3 separate regions of the Homo sapiens genome follow, and all the other regions are linked to region 2. The links come from fine-mapping of genetic effects on gene expression. A gene starts in region 2. Each other region holds a variant in brackets. All regions are shown on one strand. Distances are between the middles of the regions.

What was found.
Region 1: its variant is fine-mapped to the expression of CYFIP1 in stomach (GTEx, PIP 0.91).
Region 3: its variant is fine-mapped to the expression of CYFIP1 in whole blood (TOPMed, PIP above 0.99).

What each region holds. Positions count from the first base shown.
Region 1 is chr15:22,926,127-22,934,303 of GRCh38, forward strand. CYFIP1 (cytoplasmic FMR1 interacting protein 1) reads right to left here. Exons shown (of 31, transcript NM_014608.6): 10 at 7,676-7,767; 11 at 6,097-6,214; 12 at 1,780-1,902. Among named protein-coding and RNA genes, the nearest start is that of CYFIP1, 50 kb to the right of the region's middle. The variant A/G (reference allele first, on the strand shown) is at 3,626.
Region 2 is chr15:22,976,274-22,984,450 of GRCh38, forward strand. It overlaps CYFIP1 (cytoplasmic FMR1 interacting protein 1), which reads right to left and starts at 4,095. Exons shown (of 31, transcript NM_014608.6): 1 at 4,014-4,095. It also overlaps a transcript of TUBGCP5 not described here. RefSeq lists enhancers at 293-792, 793-1,294, 2,424-3,391, 3,392-4,360.
Region 3 is chr15:22,952,943-22,961,119 of GRCh38, forward strand. All of the region lies in intron 1 of CYFIP1 (cytoplasmic FMR1 interacting protein 1), which reads right to left. Among named protein-coding and RNA genes, the nearest start is that of CYFIP1, 23 kb to the right of the region's middle. The variant G/A (reference allele first, on the strand shown) is at 3,707.

The sequences.
Region 1 (8,177 bases), 50 kb before region 2:
AGAGGTGTTCCATATTGCATGCAAAACGCCTGGCTTCTGGTCTGACTCACACGATGGTGGCCAAAGCCAGGCCAGCCTTCAAACCTTTGCTGCATTCTGAAAGTCACACATGAGGGCGCACACACCGTCCATCTCCACAGATGGGCAAAAGACCCTGGCCCTGTAACCTCTCGTTTAAAAAATCTACCCGGCAAAATGGCCTGGATAGTGAGTGCTGAGTATCTAAGACTCTGGCATTTCATCATCATTTTAAAAAGGATTCTGGGCCAGGCACAGTGGCTCATGCCTATGACCCCAGCACTTGGGAGGTTGAGGCAGGAGGATCACTTGAGCCCAAGAGTTCAAGATCAGCCTGAGCAATATAGTGAGGCCTCATCTCTACAAAAAATAAAATAATAAGTAAGTAAATAAAGATTTTGCCTTTCAAATGACCATGTACTCTTCCAATTTGATAATTTTTATGTGATCAAAATAAATCACAAAAGGGAAAATCTTTCATTGCTTACAGGTATCCAAATCTTTATATGGCACCAGAAATAATTTACTAATGTTCAACAAAAGACATTGATGGCTGGAGCTCCAAAGAGAAAATGTTATCTTAAAAATGCAGGGCGTGAAGCGACATTAATGGGTACAAATGTACAGTCTGATATTAGAAATAAGACAGTGTTAGATAGATCAGTTAGGGTGACTATTAATTAAAATAATTTATGGTACATTTCAGAATAGATAGGGAAGAACTCGAATTTTTCTGGCATAAGGACAAATATTTATGGCGATGGACATCCCAAGCACACCAATTAGATCTTTGCAAACTGTATGACTGTATTAAATTATCACATGTATCCTGAAACTATGTACCCCTATTATGCATCAATACAAGTAAATATTTAAAGCAAAATAAAATTTAAATGAAAAAATGAGACTTGGCCAGGTACAGTGGCTCACGCCTGTAATCCCAGCACTTTGGAAGGCCCAGGCAGGCAGATGGCTTGAGGCCAGGAGTTTGAGACCAGCCTGGCCCACACGGCGAGACTGTCTGTACAAAAAAAACCAAAAAACAAAAAACTAGGCCAGGTGCGGTGGCTCAAGCCTGTAATCCTAGCACTTTGGGAGACTGAGGCGGGTAGTTCACCTGAGGTCAGGAGTTCAAGACCAGTGTGGCCAACATGGTGAAATACCATCTCTACTAAAAACACAAAAAAATTAGCCAGAAGTGGTGGTGGGCGCCTGTAATCCCAGCTAACTCAGGAGGCTGAGGCAGGAGAATCGCTTGAACCCAGGAGGCAGAGGTTGCAGTGAGCCGAGATCACGCCATTGCACTCCAGCCTGGGCAACAAGAGCGAAACTCCGTCTCAAAAAAAAAAAAAAAAAAAAAAAATTAGCCGGGAGCCGTGGTGCACACCTGTGGTCCCAGCAACTTGGGAGGCTGAGGCAGAAGGATCGCTTGGGGTGGGGAGTCAAGGCTGTAGGGACTTATGTTTGCACCACCGCACTCCAGCCTAAGCGACAGGGTGAGACTATCTCAAAAAAAGAACGACTTAAAGAAAATCACAATGGTACAAATTTAATTCTATCAAGATTTTTTTTAAAAAGGAGGCCCTTCATTTATTACACACATAAATGAGATGTACTTAAAATCACCTTGGAAACATATCTACTGATAGATATTCTCGTCTTTCTAGGGCCAAAGATAAAAAGCCCAAAGACCAAAAGTTAATGTGAATAAAGTGCCCGAGGCAGCTTTGGAGCGGGGCTGGGGTCGGGGACGGGGCCTACCACTTCCATCACGTGCGCGCTCCACTGCGACAACAGCTGCAGGCCCTGCAGCGCCAGGTCGAAGAGCTTGCGGTACTCCGCGTCCGTCTTCTGGGCCTCCTGGCGGCCCGAGCCCGTGACCACCTGCACAAGGCGGGCACGGCCCCGTGAGAAACCAGCGCCCCCACCCAGCTCCCCCCATCCCGGGATCCACCATGAGAATCCACCCCAAAGTCACACGTGTGAAAATAAGAAATGCAGGAGGCCAAGGCGGGCGGATCACAAGGTCGGGAGATCCAGACCATCCTAAAACGGTGAAACCCCGTCTCTACTGAAAAATACAAAAAAATTAGCTGGGCATGGTGGCGGGCACCTGTAGTCCCAGCTACTTCAGAGGCTGAGGCAGGAGAATGGCGTGAGCCCGGGAGGCGGAGCTTGCAGTGAGCCGACACTGCGCCACTGCACTCCAGCCTGGGCGACAGAGCGAGACTCCGTCTCAAAAAATAATAAATAAATAAATAAATAAATAAATAAATAAATAAATAAATAAAAAGAAAATAAGAAATGCTGTGGGTGCTGGACCCTCCTCCCGGGAAAATGGCGGCCAAGGGCGTGCTGCAGAGCACAGAGCAAGGGACAGGCCGCTGCCACAGCCACCGCCTGGGGGACCGCGGGCTGGGCGCGGGGCTGTTACACGCGTGGGCTTGGCGCACTTCCACTAGGCCGGGGAAGGGCAACACACAAGTCACGTGGGTTTGCTTCTATCAAATAACCACCCCCTAAATTTAAACATGTGACCTATGGGGAGGAAGGGGCACCGTGGAGAAGGCAGGCTTCTTTGAATATACCTTTTTATAGATGTGATATTAGAACCACACAAATATTTTATATATTTAGGACACAGAATTAAATGAGATCGGAAATGCAATGCCTAGAAGTCAAAAGCAAAATGAAACAATGGCGGGAACCTGCATGGAGCTCACAGCATGACCACTGAGAGGACCCTGAGCAGCTCTAAACACCACGGTGTGACTTAAAATCCTCTGAGTGAGGGGCCCGGTGCGATGGCTCATGCTGTAATCCCAGCACTTTGGGAGGCCGGGGCAGGTGGATTGCCTGAGGTCAGGAGTTCGAGATCAGCCTGGCCAACATAGTGAAACCCCATCTCTACCAAAAATATAAAAAAGTAGCTGGGCGTGGTGCTGCATGCCTGTAATCTCAGCTACTCGGGAAGCTGAGGCAGGAGAATTGCTAGAACCCAGGAGGCGAAGATTGCAGTGAGCCAAGATCCCGCCATCACACGCCATCCAGCCTGGGCAACAAGAGCGAAACTCCATCTCAAAAAAAAAAAAAAAAGTACCCTGAGTAAGAAGCTCAAGGGCAAAATCACCTGCAAAACAAATCATAAAACAATTTCTAGTCACTGTAATTAGTAGTGCTGGCATTGCTCTTTTAAGACTAGATTATGACCGGGTGCAATGGCTCATGCCTGTAATCCCAAAACTCTGGGAGGCTGAGGTGGGCGAATCACAAGGTCAAGAGATGGAGATCATCCTGGCCAACATGGTGAAACCCCGTCTCTACTAAAAATACAAAAATTAGCTAAGCATGGTGGCGTGCGCCTGTAGTCCCAGCTACTTGGGAGGCTGAGGCAGGAGAATTGCTTGAATCCGGGAGGTGGAAGTTGCAATGAGCCAAGATCACACCATTGCACTCCAGCCTGGGCAACAGAGAGAGACTCTGTCTCAAAAAAAAAAAAAAAAAAAAAAGGCCAGGCACGGTGGCTCACGCCTGTAATCCCAGCACTTTGGGAGGCCGAGACGGGCGGATCACGAGGTCAGGAGATCAAGACCATCCTGGCTAACAC[A/G]GTGAAACCCCATCTCTACTAAAAATACAAAAAAATTAGCCGGGCGTGGTGGCGGGCGCCTGTAGTCCCAGCTACTCAGAAGGCTGAGGCAGGAGAATGGCGTGAACCTGGGAGGCGGAGCTTGCAGTGAGCCGAGATCGCGCCACTGCACTCCAGCCTGGGCAACAGAGCAAGACTCCACCTCAAAAACAAACAAAAAAAAGACTAGATTATGACATAATGACATAAATCAAATTATGCTGGCGTCATTCACCAGGATGTTCAGCTTTCAGAAAAAAGAAAATCAACAAACCTAAAGTCGAATCACTTTAAAATTGTACTCAGAGGCCGGGTGCGGTGGCTCATGCCTGTAATCCCAGCACTTTGGGAGGCCGAGACGGGTGGATCACCAGGTCAGGAGATTGAGACCATCCTGGCTAGAACAGTGTCTCTACTAAAAAAACACACAAAAAACACACACAAAAAAAAACACAAAAAAACACACACACAAAAATTAGCCGGGCGTAGTGGTGGGTGCCTGTAGTCCCAGCTACTCGGGAGGCTGAGGAAGGAGAATGGTGTGAACCTTGGCTTGCAGTGAGCCGAGATTGCACCACTGCACTCCAGCCTGGGCGACACAGCAAGACTCCGTCTCACCCAAAAAAAAAAAAAAAAAAAAAAACTGTACTCCGAAAAAAACTGATTTGTTACCTTAGACAATGCCAGAGAAACAATTACAGTCAGATGCCACCTAAGGATGCTCCAGTCAACAAGACCACACACATGATGGTGCTCCCATAAAATCTTAACGTAGTGGAAAAATTCCTACTGCCTAGTGATGTCCTGATGATCCTGACCCCGTGTAGGCCTAGGCTAATGTGTGTGTTTGGGTCTTCATTTTTAACGAAAAAGCTCAAAAGGAAAAAAACAAAAACTTTTTGGTAGAAAAATAATTTACAGAATAAGGAGATAAAGAAAAAATATTTTTGCACAGGTATAGAGTGTGTTTGTGTTTTAAGCAAAGTGTTGTTACAAAAGCCAAAAAGCTCTTTTTAAAAGTAAAAAGTTTATAAAGTAAAAAAGTTACAGTAAGCTAAGGCTAATTCGTTATTAAAGAAAGAAAAAGCCTTTTAAAAAATTTAGCACAGCCTAAGCACACAGTGTTCATAAAGGCCACAGCAGTGCACAGTACTGTCCTAGGCCTCCCACTCGCTCGCCACTCACTCACTGACTCACCCAGGACAGCCTCCTTGTCTGACATGCCCAAACGCTTGCCAGGGGTCTGTGTTAGAAGCAGCAGGTGCCCCAACATACCTGGACTACTGGGTTGTCAGTCAGTTTGGTTACATGATGATGACTGGTAACCATGGGGGGTGGGGGACAGGGTGCTCATCGTCCTGCAGTGGGTGGGGCCAACATCCACAGAGTTGTCCCCGCTAAGGTTAATGGTCCTCCTGAGACCCTTGAGGGACTAACCAGTTCAGCAAAGCAGCCTGCGTATATGCCCTAAAACCCGCAGTCCCTGCCAGCAATTTGCAGCACAGACATGCCAGCAGTGCTGGCTCGGAGTCAACCTGGGTGAGTGAGGAGAATGGGAGTGGCCAAAATGACAACATGGCAAACCCAGCTGCAAAGCTGGAAGGAACTAAAGAGAAAGCACCTGTTCTCTGCACCCAACTCCAGGCCCACCTCCTGGACACATGGACCCAATGCCCCTGGGACGTCTTCTGACAGCCACCCAGAGGCTCCTGCTCACCTCTGGCCTCAGGACTTCTTCCCTTCTAGGCTTACAGGGGCCCCAGGTCAGAATCACCCTTTCCTTTCCCAGTGTCCTCCCTTCTCTCCAACCATCTTTCGAGTTGCTTGGAATCACAGTACTAGACTAGGAAATGCCACTTAATCAATTAATTATCTCATCTCTGTCCTTTCTCTTGGGATCCCTATAATGTTTTTCTGAAAAAAAAAAAAAAAAAAAAAAAAGCTTTTTGTACAGCTGAACAGAGAGAACACTAGTTTCACTGCCTTGTCAATTATAATGGGTGCTTTTGAAGTACAGTCATGCACCACATTTGGTCAATGACAGCATATACAACGGTGGTCCCATAAGATTATAATACCATCTTTTCACTGTACCTTTTCTATGTTTAGATATGTTTAGATACACAAATACATACCATTGTGTTACAACTATCCAGAGTCTTCAGCACAGCAACGTGCTCCATAGGTGTGTGGCCTAGGAGCCATCCGCTGTACCCTGCAGCCTAGCTGTGCCACAGGCTGTACCATCCAGGCTAGCATGAGGACACGATGACGTTCCCACAATGATGAAACTGCCTAATGACACATTTGTCAGAACCTGTCCCTGTCATTATGTGACATATGATCGTATCTGGTAGTAAACTGTTTTTCAAAGCAATTAAACCTAAGATTTGGGTGCAAACACACACAGGCGACCCTCGGGTGCCTGTGCAGCTCCAGGTCGCGGGGCGCACCTCGCTGTTGCTGTAGCGCGCCAGCTCCGAAATGAAGCGCATGTGGTCCTCGCGGATCTGGATCATCTGCTCGCAGATGTTGTACTGAGGGCTGCTGCCGGAGGATGTGCACGTCCATCTGTGCAGAGAGAAAGCACCCGCGTTACCTGCGGAGGCGCCGGCAGGCCACAGCACTGGGGCAGCTCAGGACGCCTGTTTGGCACCAGAGCCACACAAATGGCTTTTATGTTTTTAAAGGGTTGTTTAAAAAAACAACACAGAAGCATATCCGAAGGAGACCACCTGTGGCCTGTAAAGCCTAAAATACTTGTTATGTGTCCTTTACTGAAAAGGTTTCTTGACCCCTGAGACTGAGATGCAACTTCGTTTGTCAAAATCATGGCTGAATGGTGACTGCAGGTTGGCTACGGGCACAGTGCTTGGCAAAAGTCAATGAAAGCCTCCCCTGAGGCTCAGATGGCTCTGTAGAGTCTGCAGTGGGGAGGAGTGCCTGCCAGCATCTGGAACTGTGCTGAGGATCTTTATAGTTCTTCACAGAGTAAGATGGTACACAGTTTAGGATTTAGGGCCACATTGTCTGCAGATGTCACATCTGACACACTGTCAGTCTCTTCTTTTTTTCTTTGAGGTAGGGTCTTGCTCTCTTGCCCAGGCTGGACTGCAGTGGTGCAATCTTGGTTCACTGCAACCTCCACCTCCTAGACTACTCAAGTGATCCTCCCACCTCAGCCTCCTGAGTAGCTGGGACTACAGGCGTGTGCCACCATGCCCGGCTAATTTTTGTATTTTTTCATACAGTCAAGGTCTCACTGTGTTGCCCAGGCTGGTCTCAAACTCCTGAGTTCAAGAGATCCATCCACCTCGGCCTCCCAAAGTGCTGGGATTACAGGCATGAGCCACCGCGCCCCACCCTCTTCTTTTTTTTTAAGACAACCTTTTTAAACATAAAGACTATCACCCAGCACTGTCCAATAGGAATCCCTAGGATGATGAAAGTGTTCTGTATCTGTGCTGTCCAACACAGTAGCCACTAACTATTGAACATTTCAAACGTGGCTGTCGTAAGGAAATTAAAATTTCAATTGTATTTTTCTTTCTTTTTTTTTTTTTGAGACGGAGTCTTGCTCTGTCGCCCAGGTTGGAGTGCAGTGGCGCGATCTCTGCTCACTGCAAGCTCCGCCTCCCAGGTTCATGCCATTCTCCTACCTCAGCCTCCCAAGTAGCTGGGACTACAGGCGCCCACCACCACGCCCGGCTAATTTTTTCTATTTTTAGTAGAGACGGGGTTTCACCGTGTTAGCTAGGATGGTCTCGATCTCCTGACCTCGTGATCCGCCCGCCTCGGCCTCCCAAAGTGCTGGGATTACAGGCGTGAGCCACCGCGCCCGGCCTCAATTGTATTTTTCAATAAACTTAAATGTAAATAGCCGCATGTGGCAAAGGCTGCAATACTGGACATTTAATTCCAGGCTGAGAATGTTAACAGTGTTATCTCTAGACAAATAAGCAGGATGTTTGAAAACCGCACAATGAGGACACTGCCGAAAGCTCAAACCAGGCAGCTTTCCTCTCCTCCTACCGAGATTTATTTTCCTCGTAGTGGGCGCTGGTCTTGATATATCTTGCCAGTTCTATTTGCATGTCCCCAAATAGCGGAACCACCTGGAGTTGCTGTATTCAAAGAACAAAAAAATAGAGTCATTATGTATATTTAGTCACCAAATACATAAGCACAAGGAAACTGACTAATGCTAATAATTACTTCGGCTTGAATGCTACCTCTGCAAATGATTCATTACAAAAAAAAAACTATAAGTAACTTCTACATTCGCTTTGAGAGGAACAAAATACAATTTAAAAACCAACATCTATAAAAACTATTCAAATGTTAAAATTAACCTACCATGTTGCTAGATCCACAGTCATAAAAAAAAAAAAATCACTGCATTTCTTTCTTTTTTTTTTTTTTTTTTTTTTTTTTTGAGACAGAGTCTCGCTCTGTCGCCCAGGCTGGAGTGCAGTGGCGTGATCTCGGCTCACTGCAAGCTCCACCTCCCAGGTTCACATCATTCTCCTGCCTC
Region 2 (8,177 bases):
CAGCCTCCTGAGTAGCTGGGACTACAGGCGCACGCCACCATGCCCAACTAATTTTTGTATTTTTAGTAGAGACAGGGTTTCACTATGTTGGCCAGGCTGGTCTCGAACTCCTGCCCTTGTGATCCGCCCGCCTCGGCCTCCCAAAGTGCTGGGATTACAGGCGTGAGCAACCACGCCCAGCCAAATTTAACTTTCTAATTGTACATTGCTAGTACAGTAGTCCCCACTTACCTGTAGTTTCATTATCTGCAATTTCTGTTTCCCCAGTTATAGCTGCCTACAGTCAACTGCCCTCCAAAAATAGGTGAGTGCATACAAAAAGATATTTTGAAAGAGAGAACACATTTATATAACTTTTATTCAGTATATAATTATTCTATATTATGAACAGTTATTGTTGGTAATCTCTTACTGCGCCTAATTTGTAAATTAAGCTTTATCATAGGCATAGATGTATAGGGAAAAAAACCACAGTACACGGAGGGTTCTGTCTTATCTCAGGTTTCAGGCTTCCATTGGAACGTATCGTCCATGGATAACAAGGACTGTTGTAAACAGAAATAAGGTCAGCTTGTATAGTGTTGACTTTGCATGTATCTCCCCATGGATAAGGGGCACTGCTGTATGCAGAAATAAGGTCGCCAGGCCGGGCCCGGTGGCTCACGCCTATAATCCTAGCACTTTGGGAGGCCGAGGCAGGCGGATCACCTGAGGTTGGGAGTTCCAGACCAGCCTGACCAACACGGAGAAACCCCATCTCTACTAAAAACACAAAATTAGCCAGACATGGTGGCACATGCCTGTAATCCCAGCTACTCGGGAGGCTGAGGCAGGAGAATCGCTTGAACCCGGGAGGCAGAGGTTGCGGTGGGCCGAGATCGCACCATTGCACTCTAGCCTGGGCAACAAGAATGAAACTCTGTCTCAAAAAAAAAAAAGAAAAATAAGGTCGCCTTCTGTGTGTTGACTTTGTATCTTGTGACCTTGCTAACCTCATTAATTAGTTCTAGTAGCTTTTTCATAGATTCCCTGGATTTTCTATGTAGATAATCATGTTGTCAGCAAATAGGGACAATTTTCCCTTTCCAATTTGTATGCCTTTTCTTTCTTTGTCTGATACTATTGCACTGGCTAAAATAAGGTTTTTAAATTATGTCAGTGTAATTAATCCATGCTTTATCAATGGCCTCTAAGGGTTGGCTAAATTTTAATAGGAAAAACAATGAGAATAGCTTGGACATGTTAGTTAAAACTTCACACTATAAAATATGTTTTGGGTGGGCGCGGTGGTTCACGCCTGTAATCCCAGCACGTTGGGAGGCCGAGGTGGGTGGATCACCTGAGGTCAGGAGTTTGAGACCAGCCTGGCCAACATGGCAAAACCCTGTCTCTACTAAAAATACAAAAATTAGCTGGGTGTGGTGGCAGGCGCCTGTAATCCCAGCTACTCGGAAGGCTGGGGCAGGAGAATTGCTTGAACCCAGGAGGTGGAAGTTGCAGTGAGCCGAGATCACACCATTGCACTCCAGCCTGGGCAACAAGAGCAAAACCCTGTCTCACAAAAAATAAAATAAAATAACATAACATAAAAGAAAAGAAAACAAAGGAGGGAGGGAGATGTTAGCTATTATTTAAACCCAAAGTCACCTTTAGCATTATAAACTTGAGTATGTGCACAAAGATACAGACACAAGCATTGACTGTAGTGGTGAAAAACAGTAAATAACTATAATGTCAATCAACAGGAGGCTGATAAAATTATGAAACATCCACACTACAGAATACTATAGTGATTTGGCCGGGCACAGTGGCTCATGCCTGTAATACCAGCACTTTGGGAGGCTGAGGCGGGCAGATCACTTGAGGTCAGGAGTTCAAGACCAGCCTGGGCAACATGGCAAAACCCCGTCTCTACTAAAAAGACAAAAATTAGCCGGGTGTGGTGGTGCGTGCCTGTAATCCCAGCTACTCAGGGGGCTGAGGTGGGAGAACCACCTGAACCCAGGAGGCATAGGTTGTGGCGAGCCGAGTTTGCGTCACTGCACTCCAGTCTGGGCCACAGAGTTAAGACTCTGTCACAAAAAAAAAAAAAAAAAAAAAAAAAAAAAAGGAATACTATACGGTTATTTAAAAGATTGAGGGAAATCTGTGTGTACAGACTATATATATCAACATGTAAAGATTGCTAAGATCTTTAAGTAACCAAACATCATTAAGTGAAAAATGTATGACGATAATATATGCAATATGATCTCACTATGTTATTTAAAAAATTACTTATGCACAGAAAAGACTATTATACTACTTAGAAGTACCGAGGGAATTTCACTTTTAGTATACACGGTTCTATGCTGTTTAATGTTTTTAATGAACTATAGTTTTGTAATTTTTCTCATCACTTTATCATTTTAGTCTCTCTCTCAGGCTGTATCCGAGAGCCACACTTTTCAGACCCTTGTATCTTTACTCTTCAGGGACAAACCAGAGCATAGCTGAATCTCCAACGCCTTATGCTAAGCGAAACAAGCCAGACTCCAAGCCCACATGTGACATTCTGGAATGGGCAAAGCAGGAGGACTGAGGAACAGACAGGCGGCTGCAAGAGCGGGGAGGAGAGAGGCTGCCTTCCTGAGTATCCTGACTGCGGTGGAAGTCACTACAGTCCATGCACCTGCTACAGCTCACTGAACTGAACACCAAAAAGTGAATCTTACTAAAAGTTTAAAATAAATTTAAACACACACACAAACTTAGGGGGTACATTTTCTTTGAGCGCAGCACAGACACCTGTCTTAACGCAGGAAACGTCCTCCGCCACGACTCCAGGGCGCCTCGGTCGCAGTGAGGGCACCGGCACTATATCCCTACTGGCCCTACGAGTGCACACCTGCTACGGCCCGCGCCCACTCACAGCGTGACTCGTTCTTCCAGGCTCCGTGCCTGCAGATCTAGACATCACTTGGAAAACCGCTGGCCACCCGCAGGGAAAAGGCAGCATGCGTGGGGCCCCCGCGGGTCCCGGCCTGGCCGGGACTCTGCCGCCAAGCTGTCAAGCATAGCAATGTGCGCACTGCACCAGGCATCACCGCGGCTCCGACCACGCCTCATTCCGGAGTCCGACGGACGACTGCAAGAAACACCACCGCTCCCGGCGCAGCCACGGTGCCCTCCGCCGCCAGAAAACAAACGCTCCCGAGCCTCAGTCCCCAGCGGCGACCACGCGGCGCTGGGCTCAATCAGCAGCCGCTCCCTGACTGGACTTAATAGCGGAGCTGACACCGTCCAGACGCCCCTCTCAGCTTAAAACACGTTCCATCAACCCCGTTTCCCGATTATTCTTGCACCCTTCTTGTCACACCCACAATGTGCTGCAAATTAAGCTCACGCATTTCAGCCTTAAAATACACAATTCAGATGCTTGTGCGAAACAGTGCTGCCTCCGTAACGATCGCGCCTCCTTAACAAAGCCCAAAACTCCTCTCTCCAAGAATGCCCGGAATGGCTCCGCGGACCAGGCTCCCTCCGCTCCTCACAGGGGCACGAAACAAAAACGGGTTCAGATCTTGCTGCGCGACCTTAGTGCAACATTAACAATCTGCCTGCTCCTTACTTTCCAACAAAAACGTCAAACACTAAGGTATTCCTTCGCCACTGGAGCTGTGCCATGTGCCGGGGCGCGGAATCCGGGATCCGGGGGCGCGAGGCGGTGAACGCGGGGGCGGGGAGCTCGGGGCCGAGGCCGAAAGGCCGGGGGCGCAGGGACCGGGAAGCCAGTGCAGGGAGTGCGGGGACCTGGAGCCCGGGAGGCGCGGGAGCCCGGGGCCGGGACCTGGGGGACGCGGGGACCAGGACGATCCCGGAGGCCGCGCCGCCGGGGAGGCCGCGCCGCCGGGGTTGGGGGGGAGGGGGGGGTCCGTCCCGGCCCCGCCGCCGCCCTGGCCGGCCCAGGTTCCGAGGGGGACCCGGACCCCGCGGAGGCCGCAGGGCAGGCGCGGGCGAGCGGGGTTCCTCACCTGCGTCCGCGGCGGCTTGGGGGTCCTGGGCGGGCCCTGGGAGTTTCCTTGGCCGAGTGAGTCACTCGGGCTGGCCGGGAATGCGCCAGGAAACACTCGGCCTCCTCCCCTTCCTCCCGGGGCGGGGGCTCTCCCGGCTCGGCCTCTTCCTCCCGGCGCTCCTCCCTCCCGGCCGCGGCCCCGGCCGCTCCCTCCTCCTGGCGGGGCATCCCCGGCCGGGCGGCCCCTTTCCCCACGCCAGCCGCCGAAGGTGTCCTCCCAGGCAGAGAGCCCCTGGCTACCTGCCGGCCTGGGTCACCGCAGCCTGCGCGGGACGGCGGGGTCGGAGCGGAGCGGGCGTGGGGTCCTCCTGCGGGTCCGTCCGGTTCGGAGCGCGAAGGAACGGGGTCCGCACCCTGTCCCGGGGCTCCACCGGGTCAGGGCGGGGGTTGGCCTGAGCTGCGGAAGGAGCTCAGGGGGACACCCAGGACGCCCGTGTGGCGCCGCCCCACTTGGCAGGAGGCGCTCACCTGCGCTCGTCGGGAGGGTTCCAGGCGCGGGTCCCAGCTGCAGGTCGGCGCGCAGAGCCCGCTGGGGACCCCCCCGGCCGGCCCCTGCGGCCCCATTGCCTGCGGGAACCAGGGACAAATCCGTGCGCAGACCTGCGGGAACGGCGGACGGAAGAAAACCTGATTTGAGCTCGTGCCAAAAAACAATCTTGAAAGGCCGGTGAAGAAACATACCTCACACGGAAACGCTGAGTGGAGTCAGCTGGTCACAGGCGTGTTTAGGAAAACTGCCCTAAACGCCCCGCTCAGCCGCAGCAACCTCACTCCCCATTCATCCGCGACCCCTGGTTCTTACGGAGAACAGTAAGGATGGGCATCAGATATTCTAGTCTGGTCTCTAGATTATGAAGGTTTGGTTACCCCCGCTTGTGCTCTGCGGTAAGGCAAAAAGCAGCAAATGAATCCTGACCAGCGGATTGAGACAATCTACCAGTTGACTCAATATTCGGATATCACTTTCTCACATTCCTGCAAAACAGGGGCTTTGGATAACATTCTGGTTCCCAGTCCACACATTTTCAAATCAGCAGATTACTCCTTTTCTGTGCCTAGGGTGGAGTCTCAAAATTAGATTCCAAAGGTTTTTACATTGTAGATGACATGATAGAACCCAAATTCAAGTTATACTGTGATAATTTAAAATATTGTAATCCCGGCCGAGCGCAGTGGCTCACGCCTGTAATCGCAGCATTTTGGGAGTCCGAGGCGGGCGGATCACCTGAGGTCAGGCGTTCGAGACCACACTGGCCAACATGGTGAAGACCCCGTCTCTACTAAAAATACAAAAATTAGTCGGGCATGGTGGTGTGGGCTTGTAATCCCAGCTACTCGGGAGGCCGAGGCAGGAGAATCGCTTGAACCCAGGAAGTGGAGGTTGCAGTGAGCCAAGATCGTGTCGCTGCACTCCGGCCTGGGCGACAGAGCAAGACTCCGTCTTAAAATAATAAAATATTGTAATCCCTAGAGCAATTAATAAAAAATAATACAGCTAAAAATCCAAGAAAAGAGATAAAATAGAATACAAAAATATGCTTGATCCAAAAGAAAGCAGGAAGGAAGGAGCAAAAAGCACATAAGGCAAAGACAAAGAGCAAGCAGTTAGACTTCAACCACATTAGTAATCACATTGAATGTAAATGGACTAAACATGTAATCCGTTTACTAACTGTAAATGGATTAAAACACAGAAATTGTCACATTGGATTAAAAACGAGACCCAAATATATTCTGTTTTAAGAAGACATAATTTTGGCCGGGCACAGTGACTCATGCCTGTTAATCCCAGCACTTTCGGAGGCCAACGCGGGTGGATCAACTGAGGTCAGGAGTTCAAGACGAGCCTGACCCACATGGCAAAACCCCGTCTTTACTAAAAATACAAAATTAGCTGGGTGTGGTGGCACATGCCTATAATCCCAGCTACTCAGGAGACTGAGGCAGGAGAATCGCTTGAACCCGGGAGGCAGAGGTTGCAGTTAGCTGAGATTGCGCCATTGAACTCCAGCCTAAGCAACAAGAGTGAAACCTGGTCTCAAAAAAAAAAAAAAAAAAAGACATAATTTAAATATAAGGACACAAAGAGGCTGAAATTAAAAAGATGCAAAAGGACATGCTAATCAGAAAGGTGGAGTGATTATATTAATATCAAAGTAGAATTCAACTCAAGGGGCACTATCAGTGATAAAAAGGACATTTGATAAAAATAAATGGGTCAATTAAGTATGAAAAAATAGGCCGGGCATGGTGGCTCACGCCTGTAATTCCAACACTTTGGGAGGCTGAGGCGGGCAGGTCATCTGAGGTCAGGAGTTCGAGACCAGCCTGGCTAACATACCCTGTTTCTACCAAAAATACAAAAAATTAGCCAGGTCTGGTGGCACATGCCTGTAATCCCAGCTACTCGGGAGGTTGAGGCAGGAGAATCGCTTCAACCTGGGAGGCGAAGGTTGCAGTAATCCCAGCTACTTGGGAGGTTGAGGCAGGAGAATCACTTGAACCCGGGAGGCGGAGGTTACAGTGAGCCAAGGTCGTGCCATTGCACTCTAGCTTGGGCAACAAGAGTGAAACTCCGTCTCAAAAGAAAAGGAAGAAAAAATAACTTTTAGTGCATATATACATCAAATAAGTTTTGAAATATTTAGACAAAGATGGATAGAATCAAAAGAAGAAATAGGCGAATACACACTCATAGAGATTTGAACTTCTCTCTATTAGTAATTGATAGGACAGGCAGACACAAAAAGAAGTAAAGATACAAAATTTTTTTTAAGTAATTAACGTATTATACCTAAATGGCACCTCCACAAAACAGAATACAGAATGCATTGTACGGAATGAAAGATGTTCAGACGCTTTGTACTGAAGACTTCAAGCTGTTACTGACAGGAATTAAAGTTTTCAAATAAACACGTAACATTCACAAAATATACCATATGTTAGGAAGTAAAACAAGTCTCATCAGATTTCAAAGGGTCAAAATTATTTACAGTAGTTCCCACCTCATCTTCTGGGGGATAAGCTTCAAGACCCCTGGTGGATGTCTGAAAGGACAGATAGTAGCACACTCTACACTGTATAGACTATATATTTTTCTATATATGCAGGCCTATGATAAAGTTTAATTTATAAAGTACACACAGGTCGGTAATCCCAGCATTTTGGGAGGTCAAGGTGGGCGGATTGCTTGAGCTCTGGAGGCAGAGGTTGCAGTGAGCTGAGATTGTGCCACTGCACTCCAGCCTGGGCGATAGAGTGAGACTCACAGAGTGAGATTCCATCTAAAAATAAATAAATAAATAAATTAGACACAGTAAGACATTAACAATAATAAAAATAGAACAATTGTAGTGGTATACTATAATAAAAGTGATGTAGTTCGTCTCTCTCTCAAAATATCTCATTATACTGTACTAGTAGTCCCCCTCCTCTGAGTTCCAGTTACTCATGGTCAACCATAGTCTGAAAATAGGTGAGTATAGTACAGTGCTTATTTAAAAACAACCATTAGGCCAGGTGCGGTGGCTCATGCCTGTAATCCCAGCACTTTGGGAGGCCGAGGCAGTGGATTGCTTGAGCTCAGGGGTTCGAGACCAGCCTGGCCAACAGGACAAAACCCCCTCTCTACAAAATACAAAAATTAGCTGGGCATAGTAGGCGGTGCCTGTGGTCCCAGCTACCACTGAGGCTGAGGCAGGAGAATCACTTGAACCCGAGAGTTGGAGGTTGTAGTGAGCTGACATCGTGCCACTGCACTCCAGGCTGGGCGACAGAGCATGACCCTGTCTCAAAAAAATAGAACGAAATAAAATAAAATAAAATAAATAACCATTTAAAGCCTCTGGAAATGGGCCTAAGGGCAAACAGCCAATGAAGAATTATCTATAGAAATGAGACTACTATACAGCAATGGAACAGAATAGTGAAAATTAAGTACACATTATTTGGTCAATTGGTTTTCAATTAAGATGCTAAAGGACTTCCATGGAGAAAGAAAACTCTTTTTTGGCTGGGCACAGTGGCTCACACCTGTAATCCCAGCACTTTGGGAGGCCAAGACGTGCAGATCATCTGAGGTCAGGAGTTCGAGACCAGCCTGGCCAACGTGGCGAAACCCTGT
Region 3 (8,177 bases), 23 kb before region 2:
CTCTCCTATTCTTCACATTTTCATATTTCAGGTTTTTCATGATCATAGGCAGCCCTCCCACATCCGCCTTGGTGTGTGATGCCAAGCAGCTGTCACCGCACGCACACGGCCTGGGCCCGGCCCGCTTCCAAGGGCTCTCCGTCCGTGCATCTTCCATAGATGCGAATCTGCACAGCTTCTGCCTCACCCTGTTAGGCGGACTTGGAGTAATCAGCTCTAAATCCAAGTCTCCAAGGTCTCAGCCCTGGCAGCGTGGGTGCAGGGTCTGGCCTGGGTGCCACCTACAGAGCCAGCGTGGGGGCCCTGGCGGTGTCCACTCCACACAGGCACATCAGAGCTCATGTCTCATCCCATCTTGTTCTCTGACTCCTCACAGTTCCACCTCCCAAAGCTCTTTCAAGTGCATTTACTTTGCTCCGTCTCTAACTGCCACCAGCGGACCCTGCACCCCACTGCTAGAGAACAAAGGCAATGCGTGACTCCAGCCGCCTGCACCCTGGGATTTTTTCCGGCCCTCCTTTTGTCCTCCCATGAATGCCACGTCCCACAGGGATTTTCCCCCAGCACCAGCATCCAGCACAGCCTCTAGTCTCCTTCTGTGTCTAAGAAGCCCCCATTCCCAGGCAGCAGCACCAGGTCTGGCCTGGTCACTGCAAAGCCAGTGTCCACTGCCCTTGGAATGGAGCCTCAGTTGTATCTGACCAGCCTTTATAAGTGGCTGCCACAGTGCAAATATCCAACAGCATAATTAAAGTCACGTATTTGGAACGGCATACAAACTGTTCTGCCGGTGCTACTAGCCAGCACTTTAGAGTTTAACAATAGGATCAGGGCCTGGTGCAGTGGCTCACGCCTGTAATCCCAGCACTTTGGGAGGCCGAGGCGGGTGGATCACGAAGTCAGGAGATCGAGACCATCCTGGCTAATACAGTGAAACTCCGTCTCTATTAAAAATACAAAAAAATTAGCCAGGCGTGGTGGCGGGCGCCTGTAGTCCCAGCTACTCGGGAGGCTGAGGCAGGAAAATGGCGTGAACCCGGGAGGCGGAGCTTGCAGTGAGCCAAGATCGCGCCACTGCACTCCAGCCTGGGTGACAGAGCGAAGACTGTCTCAAAAAAACAAAAACAAAAACAAAAACAATAGGATCGCATTTCTGTCTCTGCTCCTTCAGCTCGTGTGGACAGGTACATTGATGTCCACTGCTTGGGGCCTGATCAGAGCAGGGCAATGCGTGACCAGGCACAGAGGGAAGACCACGAGAGGACACAGAGAGAAGGTGGCCATTCACAAGAGAGGCCAACCCTGCTGGCCCCCTGATCTCAGACTCCCAGCTCCAGAACTGAGAGAAAGAAATTCCTGCCTGATCTGTGGTGTTTTGTTAATGGTAGCCCTGGCAAATGAACACAGAGCCAAGAACAGGTAGGACGGAGTCACCCAGGTGGGACGCAGATTCCCTGCGCTGTCTGCCAGGTAAGAACCCACACGAGCTGGTATTTTGCTGATCATGAAAATAATACGTGCTCCATGCAGAAAGAGCACACTGCTGGGAACAAAACAAGCCAGCCAGACCTGCATGAGCTCGGTCACAAGGCGCTACCATGCCACAGTTCCAGCTGCCTGTGCCCCCGGCCTCCCCAGGCGGCGAACCGACCCAAAAATAACATGCCCACCCTCGGTTTATGTCATTGAACAACATAAAGAGATGTTTTTTCCTTCCCTGACTGATTTTCTATCAGCAGCAGTTCTCAACCCTCATGTTTGATTCCAAATCCTATAGCTTGTCAAGATATAAAAATGAATTTAAATATGGTAGGGGAACTGCTGTTTTAATAAGCCATCAGTTCGTTTATTTTGTAAATTTAAGAGTTTTTAAAAATAAAGATTTCAAAGGAGGACATCATCATACTTGGCTGCTCTTCCAGTGATGTCCTCAGAGTCCCGGGTCAATCTCTGAGTGTCTCATGGGTCGGGATGCACCTCTGCTCTAGGCAGCTGCAGGGCAGTTTACAGAGTGAGCAACATCCACCGGGCGGTGGCAGACTGGCTCCGTGTCTGAGCTCACATCATGCTGCACACCTCACTCACCTGCTGGATCGTGGAACCCCAGATGGGCTTCAAGGGACCCACGGTGGGCAGGAGGCAAAGGTTCCCAGTGCCACCCACTTGAAGGGCAGTGCCTACAGGGCATGCTGGGGGCTCCATGGGTCCACCTCCTTTCTTCCACATGTCACTGGCTGCCCCTCAGCCTCAGATCCACACAGATGCAGTCTCAAGAAGTGGTCCTCACAGCTGCCTTAAGGTGGAGGCCACCCTGACACATTGGCAAATGAGTGGAGGGAGGCTGGATGGGGTCGCCAGCTGCCCCAGGGCCCACAGCCACAGAGCAAGGTTGAGAACCGCCCTGACCCAGTGCCGGGTGCCCACCCAGGGGGTCAAGGCCAGAGGCACAGAGGTACAGATGGCCACTTTCCAAGTGCGAGTGAGGTGCTGGAGACCGATTTAGGCCTGAGGGGCAGGACAGAGGCAGCATGGAGCTGGAGCCACAGACAGAGTTGCCCCGGCGTGGGCAGGCAGCAGGGGCTGGGGAGGCAGGGGAGCAGGGTCAAGGACCCTGCTGGCCCCAGCAGAGCCCTGAAGATGCTGGAGAAAGTTGGAGACAGCAGGCCAAGGGGCAAAGGCAAAGGAGGCATGCACCAGTGCTTCCACCAACTAGAAAACGGGCAGATCCGCCCAGGCTCCTGGTCTTTAACCCATCTAGATGTGGCCAGCCCTCGCCACACTCCCCCTGCAAGCTCACGGGCTCAGGGCATCAGCCAGTGCCTCCCCATGCTGCCCTTGGGGAACCCAGTTCCCAGAGAGACCCTGGACCTCACTTCTCCACACAGCAGACATCCCAGGAGATGGGAGGGTGATTTTTGTAAAACCTCACAATCATCACATGCTTCAAAACAAAGAACAGTGAATCAACAGAATTTTTTTTAAATGTGATTTGGGGCTGGGCACAGTGGCTCACTTCTCTAATCCCAGCACTTTGGGAGACCGAGGCTTGAGGTCAGGAGTTTGAGACCAGCCTGGCTAACATGGCGAAATACTTCCTCTACTAAAAATACAAAAATCAGCTGGGCATGGTGGTAGGTGCCTGTAATCCCAGCTACTTGGGAAACTGAGGCATGAGAATCACTTGAACCCAGGAGGCGGAGGTTGTAGTGAGCTGAGATCGCGCCACTGCACTCCAGCCTGGGCGACAGAGTGAGACTCTGTCTCAAAAAAAATAAATAAATATGATTTGGTCCTTTTCCCTGTGTCTGAGCAGCATGAGGGCAGGTGGCTGGGAAGAAAGAGATGTCTCTCGTGCTCAGCAGGCAGCTCAGTCAGTAGGTCATAACCCTGAGTCCTGGCATAACTCAACAGTCTTGAAAATGAAAAAAGACACTACTAGGCTGCAAAAACAAATGGAAATTAAAGCAGCCAAGACTAACTTTAACCTGGAAGCAGAGGTGGTGCCAAGAGATTAAAAGGGAAAAGGAAAAAAAAAGTTTGTATGTGTGAGTGTGTATGTGTGTGAGTGTGTGTGTCTTCAATAAGCCAGCATCCCTGGGAGAACACAGGCCCCGTGGGAAACCGGCCTTGGACACCAGACAAAACAAAGGAGTCAAACAAGTCAGGGGCTCTGGAGACGGGGCATCTCAGGGGAGGCTCGGGGCAG[G/A]TGGCCAGGAAGGGTGGGGGCTGGTAAAGGGGGAACGGGTGGCCACACCATCCAGATGGCCCCACGGCCCCACTGCCGCCCCGAGACAGCAGTGTGCATGCGGCCACTCTGGCCGGGCCCAGGCTCCCAAGATGCCAGCGAGCACACAGCAGAATGGTGGCTGCACACACAGGGACAACGTGCACTGCCCGCTCCAGCCAGCCCCTGGCCACGGAGGGACCTTGTATTTTACCACATTAGAGGATAAACTTTTGAGATGTATTTACTTCTCTTTCCACCCTAGGTCAAGAGGGAGCTTTTCACAGGGACCGAACAGTCATCTCTTTAGGTGTTAAAATAGAAACTGCCAAGACAGCTCAACACCAAGGTTGCAAAATGTGGAGAAGCCACAATCCAGAAAATGCAGAAGCGAAGGCGTCGGTGCCACGCAGGCGGCAGTGCTGTGGCAGGCGGCACGCCGACGCTAACTCCCGCCACTGCAGCCCGCACTGAGACAGGTGGAGAGATGCTTTGCTAGAAAGAGGGTCTTCCCAGCATTTCTAAACCAGTCATTTAAAAATTTTACAACTTGTGGCCGGGCACGGTGGCTCACGCCTGTAATCCCAGCACTCTGGGAGGCCGAGGCAGGCGGATCACGAGGTCAGGAGATCTAGACAATCCTGGCTAACACGGTGAAACCTCATCTCTACTAAAAATACAAAAAATTGGCCGGGCGCAGTGGCTCACACCTGTAATCCCAGCACTTTGGGAGGCCGAGGCAGGTGGATCACGAGGTCAGGAGATCAAGACCATCCTAGCTAACACGGTGAAACCCCACCTCTACTAAAAATACAAAAAATTAGCCAGGCATGGTGGCGGGCGCCTGTAGTGCCAGCTACTAGGGAGGCTGAGGCAGGAGAATGGCGTGAACCCAGGAGGCGGAGCTTGCAGTGAGCCGAGATCGTGTCACTGCACTCCAGCCTGGGCGACAGAGCAAGACTCCATCTCAAAAAACAAAAAATGTTACAACTTGTAAGCATTCCACTTGTCCAGCTAAACAGCATAATCAAACAAAGACAAACTATGAAATGTTTCTGCAAACGTGCACAAGGCATGAGCTGATTTTCTTCCTCTTCTATATGCAAAATGATGGCACTTCCCAGAAAAGTAGAAACTTCCAATATTTTTGTGCAAGCTGTTCATGTAAAATAGGCATAAAATAAATCATCTGAAGAAGAAAAGCATACTTTGCTGTCCCTTTCTCTCCCAGGTGTAGAAAGAATGTGCTCTTCTGTATTTGGAAGCAGGGGACCGCGCCAGCATGGCTGCAGCTGGTTTTCCCCAGGTTAAACGGCCTGACCGCACGGCTGCAGCACAGAAACAGGCTGTCATGACCAGCAAGGCAAACAGTGCATAGTTAAAAACCAATATAACATCTTCTAGACTAGCTTTATTACTGAAGTAATTTGCTTTTTTTTTTTTTTTGAAATGGAGTCTCGTTCTTGTCACCCGGGCTGGCGCAATCTCGGCTCACTGCAACCTCTGCCTCCCAGGTTCAAGCAATTTTCCTGCCTCAGCCTCTCAAGTAGCTGGGATTACAGGCACCCGCCACCACACCTGGCTAATTTTTGTATTTCTAATAGAGACGGGGTTTCACCATGTTGGTCAGGCTGGTTTTGAACTCCTGACCTCAGGTGATCTGCCTGCCTCGGCCTCTCCAAGTGCTGGGATTACAGGTGTGAGGTAATCTGCTTTCTTTAATGCACAAAAACTTCAAATTCCATCCTCAAAAGCGGCCACTCAAAACCAGCTCAAAAGAACAGCCTCATCAACAGAGAAACAGAAATCAAGTTTGAAAATCACAATGAGGTGCTGACATCTAAAACAGTGTGCCAAGGAACCCTGAAAGAGAGCACGTCTCCACGCCACATGGCCTCCGCCCCCCACCTTGGGGCTGCAGCCCCTTCGGCCAGGGTCAGGCTGCCTCTGGGAGGGGTCTCCCAAGACCAAGTGGTCTCACAACCTCCTAACATCGCCCTCCCCCAGGCTTCCCTCTGATCCCCCAGGCACCGCCAAACCTGCACTCACCTCTGCTTCTCTTCCTGTCACTCTCCTGCTCACGCTTTCACTGGCTCTCTCTGCCTACAGCTGTGGTTTTCAAACCATGCGCCATGAAACCCCAGAGTGCCCCAGGAGGGCAAGGGAGAGCAGTTCTGTCTTTATCTGTCAAATTTGTATGAAAAAAACTATTCGGATGCTAAAATAATTAATAAAAGGCAGAGATGGGGCCCAGTATTCCACAGAATAAAGTCTCAATCGCTCATAGAACACCCAAGGGCCTCCCTCCATCTCCCACACCCCTGGGCCATGGAGGACCCGCTGTGCCATCCACCAGTCCCACTGCCCCAGGTGGGGCCCTCAGGACAATGAGAACATGCACCTCAGCCCAGGGCTGGGCTACCAGGCACACAGATGAGCTCGGGGAAGCTCCATCAGCCCACCTGGCAGATGCCTGGGTTGGGTAGGGATCAGGCTGGTGGGAGGGGCTGTTTCTTTCCCACCTGTGTGCACCTGGGCAACACACAGACAGCATAAACAATTAAGGAGTGCTCCTCGACGACGGCCATTCCTTCATCTTTCACCCGAATCCAGTGCATGTTTAAAAGGCACAAAGGGAAGAAGACAGCGTTTCCCGCTCCACCTACTCTTTCTGTTAGGGCAGACCCACCATGGCGGTCTCCGGGAGGACAGTCACACCACAGAGGGGGCGCTCCCACGCTCAGGAGAAGAGTGGGGGTCCCCATTCACAGATGCCGACACTGAGCCCAGAGGGACAGGGAGCTGCCGCAGCCCCGTGGCTTGCCTCACGTGCCTCAGTGGCGTGGCCCGCATGGCCGGGCAGTCCCGCCTGCTCAGGAGGCCATGGGCTCGGCTGGGCACCAAGCATGACCTCGGGCGCTTGACAAAGCAATTCCACCGCTGGCCATTCTGGCTGGGGGCTCTCAGCCTGCTCTGATTCCTGCGGCTTGAAGGAAAGGGAACTGGCTGCCACCCACCTTGTCCCCCACCTTATCACTGTGCCCAACAGACCGTGTATCTGCTGGGTCCTGCGGCGCCCGGCTGAGGAACAGGCGCCACGGGCGATCGAGCCCCGTGCTCCCCCTCCCCACCAGCCTCTCAGGTTCTCCTCTCAGGGCCCAGGAGGGTGCAGGTTGATGACCAAAGGCTACACGGCAGCCACCAGATCATCTTCACCCAGCATCCACACCTCCTGATGTGCCTGTTCTTTTCCTGTCTCTCCCTCCCCTGTAAGGACCTGAATCCCCGAATCCCCACGTGGCTGGCCTGGATGTGGCCTGGCCCTGCCAGGGTCTGGCATAGCCCAGTAGCAGCCCAGCCCTTCTCCTGCACCAAGTGCACCCACGAGGAGCTGCAGGCTCCCCTACTGCGCCTGGCCTGTGGGCCGAGTGTCTCCCGGGCTCCACCACTGTGCCCAGCCCGTGGGCAGAGTGTCTCCTGGGATCCCCTACTGCCTCCAGCCTGAGGTCAAGCCCATGACCTTAGCTACCACCTACACTACACCTCACTCGCCAATCTCTATCAAGGGTCCTGCTGTCAAGACACTTGGGCTGGAAACACCAGCATCAACCTCACCAGCTTCCTCCACATGCACCAAGACACCTCACAGGTCCCACGCAGTGGGGTGGTCTGTGCCTTCGGGTGCCCCATTTCAGCGGGCTCGTGCTCTGGGATGTCCCAGGCACCTTGCCGGAGACGTCCTGCAGAGACAGGAGCTCCATAAGCAGGCGGTGCCACAGAACATCCCCAGTGACTGTGAACCGAGCAGGGACCTAACGGGGAGCTTCTCAGGTAAACCAGAATCCTGATCTTAAAGCTCCGGGTCTTCACGAAAACTGTGGGAAAGGTATCCAGGCCATTTAGCTGTCCATCAAAGGAACAAAAGCAGAAAGCAGCTCTTTCACTGAGGTCATATAAATCTTTTCCACCATTACAGCAACACCTGCACATCCAGAACATGTGAAGGAAACACCACTGGCCCATGCATGAACCGCAGCCTGCTTCAGGGCGGCCCGCCCTCCTCCTGCTTAGGCATGAGACAAGCCTGACAATACCACATCTGGGCGGAAAAGCCTGGAGTGTGTTTGCAGATGACTTTCCTAGCAGCACATCCCAGGAGGTTTCTTAGGTCACACAATGTCTCTAAAGCTGCAGGTGGCTTTGGGCCAGGTGCCCTCCTACGGGGGCCCACGAACAAGGTGGAGCCGGACAGTAGCATGGCGCTTCCCAACAGAATCCAGGGGTCACTTCTGTTTTTATAATTTAATCTGAATGTTCTTTTAATTTGTATTTCATTTATTTATTTATTTATTTATTTATATTTTATTTATTTTTAAGATGGAGTCTCACTGTCACCCAGGCTGGAGTGCAAGTGGCATGATCTCGACTCACTGCAACCTCCGCCTCCTGTCTT